Homo sapiens: one gene and its partner. The protein of the gene in region 2 purifies or fractionates together with the protein of the main gene of each other region. This does not show direct contact. Each region holds a gene or a part of one and is shown on either strand. Other genes may lie near its edges.

The links. Proteins that work in one complex are often made in the same cells at the same time.
Region 1: the proteins of GOLGA8A (region 2) and LTF purify together in Homo sapiens (affinity purification with mass spectrometry; one large-scale study listed by BioGRID and IntAct). This does not show direct contact.

The regions. Positions count from the first base shown.
Region 1 is NC_000003.12:46,447,763-46,451,414, forward strand, and holds part of LTF (lactotransferrin isoform 1 preproprotein), read right to left. Parts: intron 2,912-3,652; coding exon 2,733-2,911; intron 2,267-2,732; coding exon 2,092-2,266; intron 1,256-2,091; coding exon 1,101-1,255; intron 1-1,100. UniProt on the Homo sapiens protein: Transferrins are iron binding transport proteins which can bind two Fe(3+) ions in association with the binding of an anion, usually bicarbonate. Lactoferricin binds to the bacterial surface and is crucial for the bactericidal functions.
Region 2 is NC_000015.10:34,378,686-34,382,337, forward strand, and holds the end of GOLGA8A (golgin subfamily A member 8A), read right to left. Parts: coding exon of another isoform or gene 3,646-3,652; intron 3,567-3,645; coding exon 3,466-3,566; exon of another isoform or gene 3,384-3,465; coding exon 3,283-3,383; intron 3,172-3,282; coding exon 3,016-3,171; intron 2,929-3,015; coding exon 2,726-2,928; 3' UTR 383-2,725; downstream 1-382. UniProt on the Homo sapiens protein: May be involved in maintaining Golgi structure.

The DNA of each region.
Region 1 (3,652 bases), on a different chromosome or scaffold from region 2:
ACTCCACTCCAAGCGCTACACAGAAGTTGTCCAACACATAAGCTGAAGTCGTCATATTGGCCCACCACCAGAATGAACAAGTCCAGGCTACAACACAGGATCATGGACTCATCAGTAGTATGAAACTTCCTCTTTGACCCAGTAATATTTTTACAACTATATTAAAAATAGAGAAGTGGACAAAGATTTCTACTCAAGAATGCTCACCACAGGGTTATTGATAATAGCAAAGTAAGGGACAAAGAGGAATGGGGGCATGACTAAACTGAGCCATATTCACATAAAAGATATCCTGGAAGCATGTTTAAAAAATGTTTTCGTCCGAGTGCTGTGGCTCACACCCGTAATCCCAGCACTTTGGGAGGCCGAAGCAGGAAGATTGCTTGAGCCCAGGAGTTCGAGACGAGCCTGGGCAACAAAGCGAGACCCTGTCGCTACAATAATAATAATAATAATTATGCAGGTGTGGTGGCGTATGCCTGTAGCCCCAGCTACTTGGGAAGCTGAGATGGGAGGATCACTTGAGCCCAAGAGTTCCAGGCTGCAGTGAGATGTGGTCGCACCACTGCACTCCAGCCTGGGTGACAGATCAAGAATCTGTCTCTTAAAAAAAAAAAAATTAATGCTTTCCAAGAGTAAATATTCATGTGGAAGAATGCCCATTATACGCTGTTTAGTGAAAAGGGCTTAAAAACGACATACTGCAACACTTCATTATTGTTGCATGCATATCTGCAGATGTGCAGAGAAATACTGGAATGGAGAATTAGCCAGACTTTAACCATGTCTGTCCCTCTGTGTGAGATCACAGGTGGTTTGGGGGGTTTGTTGTTGTTTTGTTTTAACATAATACCTTTCCATATTTTCCAAATTCCTTATAATAATCCTGAGTTGTTCTTATAACCAGAGGAGTGGGAAACCCACAGTAAACTGCTTTTTGAAACTAAAATGCTTTCTGGCCCTGAGCACACCTCTCCAGGCATCCCTGCCTCACCCAGGCCCCCGTGGCCTCTTTGACTGTTGACTTCACTTTAAGCAGATGCCCAGGCCCTAGGTCTTCCACCGGGCCCACCGCCCGCCCCTGTGATGGAGCTCCCTACCAGCACCAGGGCGATGCAGTCCTCTGTGGTGGAGGCCGAGGAGCAGGTCACGCTGCCTTCGCTCAAGCCACTCCACTGGTTACACTTGCGCAGCTCCTGCTCGCCCACCGCACACCACACGACCCGCGCACGCCGGGCAGCCACTTCCTCCTCACCTGCCAGAGGGAAGACCGCAGGTGGCTGGGCAACCTGAGCTTTGCCAGGTTGTCCAACCTCCCCAGAGCCAGGGTCCTGCCCAGACTCTCCCTGGAACAGGAGCTACAGTACATGTGTGGACATGTGGACCCATACCCTCTCCTCCTCCACTTCTCAGCTCCAAGCCCCTTCTTCAGGTCCACAGAGCTCCCTGTGTTTCCCACTTCTGTTCCTTTGGAGAAGTTCCCTGGCTTCTAATCTATCCATTAATCTTTAGAGTCAGGAGGCGCCTATTGTCTCTGTCTCTGAGGATAAACGCTCCATGACCCAGAGACCAGTGACAGTCCCAAGAGATGGCCTAGGGGACCTTGAGCCCAACCCTGACTTCCCCTAACGCCTGCAATCACCACCAATAACTACGGTGCAGCCTCTGGGTTCCCCCAGACTCCCACCCCCAGCCCCCCAGTAGAGAAGGAGCCATAGCTGAGTTCCCCCACCATGGTGTCCCCAACTAAGTTCAAGGTCTGGGCCTGGGAAGTGTGGGTAAATCCAGGCCCCCGGATTCATCCAGGAGGGGTCCTGGCTATCTTTGTTCATGTTCATGTTTCTCACTTAATAGGAGGCAAACTGATTTTTCTGCCAGGCCTGGGGAGCCTGACGTGCACTGATCAGGTGGCCAGACTATTCTTTTAGAGACACCTGACCTAATCCACAGAAGACACTCACACCTGCATCAAACCTCCACGATGACCCCACAGTGTCTGGGAAAAGGAGTGACCGCCACAAAGTAGGGCCACCTGCTGGGAAGTAGAAGACCACACCAGGCGGACCTCAGGACCCTCCTGGGCTCACTCACTTTTCCTCAAGTTCTGGATGGCAGTGAAGTAGCCGGAGCCAAGGTACAGCCCAGAATCTATCCTCGGGGGCACCCTCGAAAACCCAATGGCAGAGTCCTTGAACAGCAGATCTTTCTGCCCACTAGGGGAGCCAAAGAGCTGGAATTTCGGTGACTTGTCCTTTCCAAACTTTTCCTAATTAAGAAAAAATAGAATTATGGTGTCAATGGTAAATAGGGAGGAAACAAAAAAATGATGTTAAAAAAGAGTATCTGGAGCTTTGGGATCATTCTAACTGAGAGCAGGAGCCTCGGTTGAGACCCTCCTGCAGAGGGACTTGTGCCATCTCGGAGACCCAAGCTCAGCTATGGCTCATTCTTTGAAGAGTTGCTGAGGTCCAAGCACCTTAGGGCCCTGAGAAGATTGCATCGACCACCCCCTGCTTCTGCTCCCATCATAAGACGCTGTCAGCCCGTGTGACAGAAGAGTTTCATTGCTTCTGCTGTCCACAGTACAGCCTGGGCAAGCAGCCCAATGCATTAGTGTGCTATCCTGCAGCAAAGCTACAGGACTTCTGGAGTGGCAGAAGTCAGGGAAGTAAGAAACCTTGCTCCCTGCCCCCCATATCCAAGCAAGTGGGGAGGACCGTGGGTGAAGATACCTGTGCCTGGCGGAGAAGATTCCAGATGGCATCCTCCTTGCCATTCACACTTCGTGCCACAACGGCATGAGAAGGGACCCGGGCCAGATGGCAGTCTTTGAACTTGTCCACTGGCTTCCGAGTGTTGTCTGGGCAGAGTAACTCATACTCGTCCCTTTCAGCCTCGTCTGACAGGTCCTCTGCAGGGAAGGTGAGGTGGGAGGGAGTCTAGATAAGCCGACTCCAGCAGTAACCTCGAGCTATAGTTCCCCTTCTCCCTATAGAATTTTGAGCTTGGGGAGATAGCTGACAAAACTGAGGGTCAGAAAGGCAGGGGTTTGCTCCAGAACACTCAGAAAGGTAAAGGTAGTGCCCCAAAAGCCTCAGGGGGCAGCCGAGGTGTGATCCTCATCCTAAATCACTTAGGCCACCCTGGGGTTCCCGTGCAGCTGCTGCCTGGCAGGCCAGAGAGGCCAAACCAGACCCGTCTGTTTCTGCGGCATCTCTGCCTGGAAAAGTCACTTTGCAGAGACAAGCTCAGGGGGCCACCAAGGGTTGCTCCCTTACTCACATCTCTGGGAAGAATAAAAATGACAAAAATGTTAACAAGGCAGGGAATAAGGCAGGAAGGTGAGACACTTTCCAACACTGAGTATATCAAAAGAAGGGGAAGAATGGTTTTATGAATGAGTTCAGGCAAATGTGGAATATCATATATAAGTTGCTTCAGAATGTGTAAAGTGAAAAAAATCTTGCCCGAGTCATTTTATGAGATTAGTACAACCTTGATGTCAAAATCAGAAAAAGTATAGGAGGGAAGAATTAAAAGTTTATTTTACTTACGAACATAAATGCAAAATTTGTAAATAACGTACTAACTAACTCAATCTCACAGAGTATTTAAAAAGCTAATAGATTGGAATGAAGGTTTACCAGTGTAT
Region 2 (3,652 bases):
AGACGGAGTTTCACTCTGTTGGCCAGGCTGGTCTCGAACTCCTGACCTCAGGTGATCTGCCCACCTCGGCCTCCCAAAGTGCTGGGATTACAGGCTTGAGCCACCGTGCTCCATGATAACTTTTCAGAAAACTTTTTTCTACTTTTTGCCACAACTTTTTTACATTTTTATCCGATAACTTTTTCACCCCAAAACTTTTTTAATCCCATACCTTTTTTATGTTGTGTTCTTTCAATAAACACTTGCATAGTTATACTACATTTTTGTAACAATGAAACAGATTATCTCATGCCAAGCATGCCCAGTATTTGCACAATATCAATACTTTTAATACTATAGTTTTCAAGACACGCAAAATAAAATTTTAAGGCAAAAACAGCACTTTGCAACAATTTAAAAATTTATTGCATTACAGTAGCATCACATCAGCAGTCAATAATGCCACTTTAAGCAAAAGTCTTTCAGTATTTCCGTTACACATTCTGTTAACAAGAACTCATACATTGGTAAAATTCATTCTAAGAAAACTTGGCAAATAACGCTTTGGCCTGGAATTGGCATTTCTTTCTCTACTTTTCCTTCCCACCATTTCTTCCTTTTAAACTACAGGATTTATATTTTAAAATGTTTTATTTCAGAACATTAAGATAGCAGTTACATTTTTTAATATTTATATTATTTTAAAATGACTCTTTAAGATACAGTTTTAAACCCATGGGCTAGAAATCATACGACTGTTAATTAGCCGCATTATTTGGTCTAACATTTTTTATCATTCTGAAACTGGATTTGTGTAATACATTGATAAATTCATACAATTTGGAAGAGTCAGTTGAAGTTACAAGGACCCAATATCTGCCCTCTTTCAGTGAATGCCGGCAAATCTGTTATTCCATTGGCAAAATCGTATTGCTGCTCTCCTGTTAATCTCACATTTATAAAAGGATCATGAGGCTGCCAAGTGCTAAAAATGGAGATGGTCTAGTAACTAGAAAACTCCCCACCCCAGGGAGCACACCTACATATCTCCCTACAACCTAATAATGTGATGTGTTTTGGAACACAGACATTAGAACTTCATGAAGTTTTAACTGTTGATTCTTTCCCAAGCATCATCAAGTTATGATTTAGGCAATGTATGATTGAAATGCATTCATTCATCATGCATAGGCACAATCACAGAAATATTGCACAAAGTATGTCCCTGACTGAAAATGAGAGGTACAAAAACGTATTTCACTCTTCGTAAAGAAGTTTGTGAGGAAATACAACTCTGCGATCGTATAGACATGTTTCCTGATAATACAGACATTCACAAACAGTAGATTGCACCACAGTGTGTAAACATTTTAAGTTGCATAAACTTCTCCTTGATTTTCAAAGATAATATAATACTGTCTACTAAAATTCCTTTTTGTTTCAACTAAGTACTCTCACATATATTAGTTTATAATAATGTTTGTTATTACTTTCTAAAGTGTTTTCCACTCAAGGAAAAGAAGTAAATTCCTATGTCAGAGTAACCGAGGTGGTTGAAGAATAGGTATTAGCCAGAGAGGTCTAGATAGTAAAATCAAACTTCAAGCCTCAAAGAAGCTCCATGAACAGAGAGGAATGCCAGGTGTCACACAGCTTTCCTTCACTCTAATTCATTCTTGACTAGAGCCTGTATGCCTGTTTCAGAGACATTTAAACTCTTAAAGGATTTCTTATGATCTTCACTAAATACATTAAGAAGAATGCCAACCAGCGCCCTTTCGTGTACTGGGACAGGTAGTCATGTGATTAAAACAGGGAACACGAACTCTGACTTTAAAATGTATTGTAGATACAAATGCTCTAAGCTAGGAAAGGTTTTTCACACCCACAGCCAATGATGGCAGCCTTTCATTCCTCGGAAATAAGCCCTTTTTAGGTCACTGAAAAAGAGTGCAACTGCTGCAGCTCACGATGCAATATCTTCATGAGCCCAGAGCACATACAAATCCAAAGGGAACTGCCACAGTACACTGCTCATTCTTGGCACCGGAACAGATGAAACACACTGTATCCTGCACATACCTGCCAGAGCAGGCCACTTTCCTCTTCTGTGAGATTTAGAAAGCTCCCCCAAAAGGTTATCACTCCCATCACCAATACACAGAAAATGGAGGAAAGGCTGTTTCCAGTTCTCGGCCTTTAAACAGCTCTAAATGTCAGTACTCACAGTGGCATATTACAAAGTAATAAACAGTGCACACTTGAGGGCAAACCGCATATTGAGCTATAGAAGAGCTCACTGTGATTAAGATGAGATCAAACATCATAGCAGAACATTAGCAAATTTTATCTGAATTCTGTAATGGACATCCATGCTGCAATAACATTAGAAAAGCACGGGAGCCTATTCCAAACCAGCGAGAACAGTTTTGTGCAAAGAGTGGGTCTTTGTGTGTTTGAACTCCCACCACGTAAGGGCAAACTCGATATGCATGCTAATGACCTACAATTATGAAATGAAAAAAGAAAAATGCTGAAGGATGCCAGAGTGAACATCAGTGAGAGCCACAGAGACCCACTCTCTTTTAACTTTTTACAAATAAACTTAAACTATAAATTAGAAACACAAATAATCATGAGTAGCTCTAACATTCAAATGAAGTAAATGAATTGTGTAGGAGATTAACCCCATAACTTTGTTTCGTTTTTAAAAATTTCTTGAGCAGCTCTTTGATGATGGTGGTGTTTATCTCCTTCTTCTCGGCAGCCAAGCCCAGCAAAAGCATGGCACACAGCAGTTGCTGCCCAAGCCTGGGTGCTCCTGGTGGTCCTGCATCTCACCAAGGAGCTGCACGACTGGCTGTGCAGTAGGGTTGTCCTGGGAAGAACCCTCCCTGGCTTCTCCTTGTGCAGGCTCCACGCTGTTGGTGAGGCTCGCCTCACAAAGATCTTTGGAGAGAGGGAGGCGGGGATCTGAGTGGAGTGCTAGCCGCCCCCCGCTCCTGCCTGCTCACCCCGCCTGGGGGCTCTACTCACCACCATGCTTGTCGGCAGCCCCGAGCTCCTGGGGGGCTGGGGCTCCTGGACTGGGTTCAGCAGCAGGGTTCCGGGCAGCGGCCAGGAATTTGCCGTGCCCCTCGCTGTAGCTGCCACAAGCCGCAACACCATCTCCTGCAGCTCCAGCAGCTTCACCTGAAGGGACGGGTGCTCAGCTGTCAGGCCGCTGCTGGCGCCCACCCTCATGCCCACCCCACCCACACCCCCACCCCACCCCCACCCCCACAGGGATGTTGCACACCCTACCTTCCTCTCCTCCTTGTCCTGGGCCAGCCTGATGATGGCCTCCTCCCGGTGACGCATCTTTGGCACTGTCCCCTGGCTCTGTTAGAAGGCGATGTACTTTCCTGCGGGAGGACAGGGCTCAGACGCTGGGGCCCCTCCCATAGCCCTGCAGCTCCCCCTGCCGTGCCCTGGCCTCCCACTCACTGATGGCATCTCTCTCTCCGGTACTGGATGAATCCAAGTTCCAGTTTCTCCACATGCTCCCTCAGGTCCGCCTTCTCCTCCAGGAGGTCCATAAGGCCGCTCTGGAGCCAAAATAATGGGGTCACATCTCAGCAGCGACCTGCCCCAGCCCTGCCCTTCTTGGCCCATGCTAGGACTCACTCCCCTC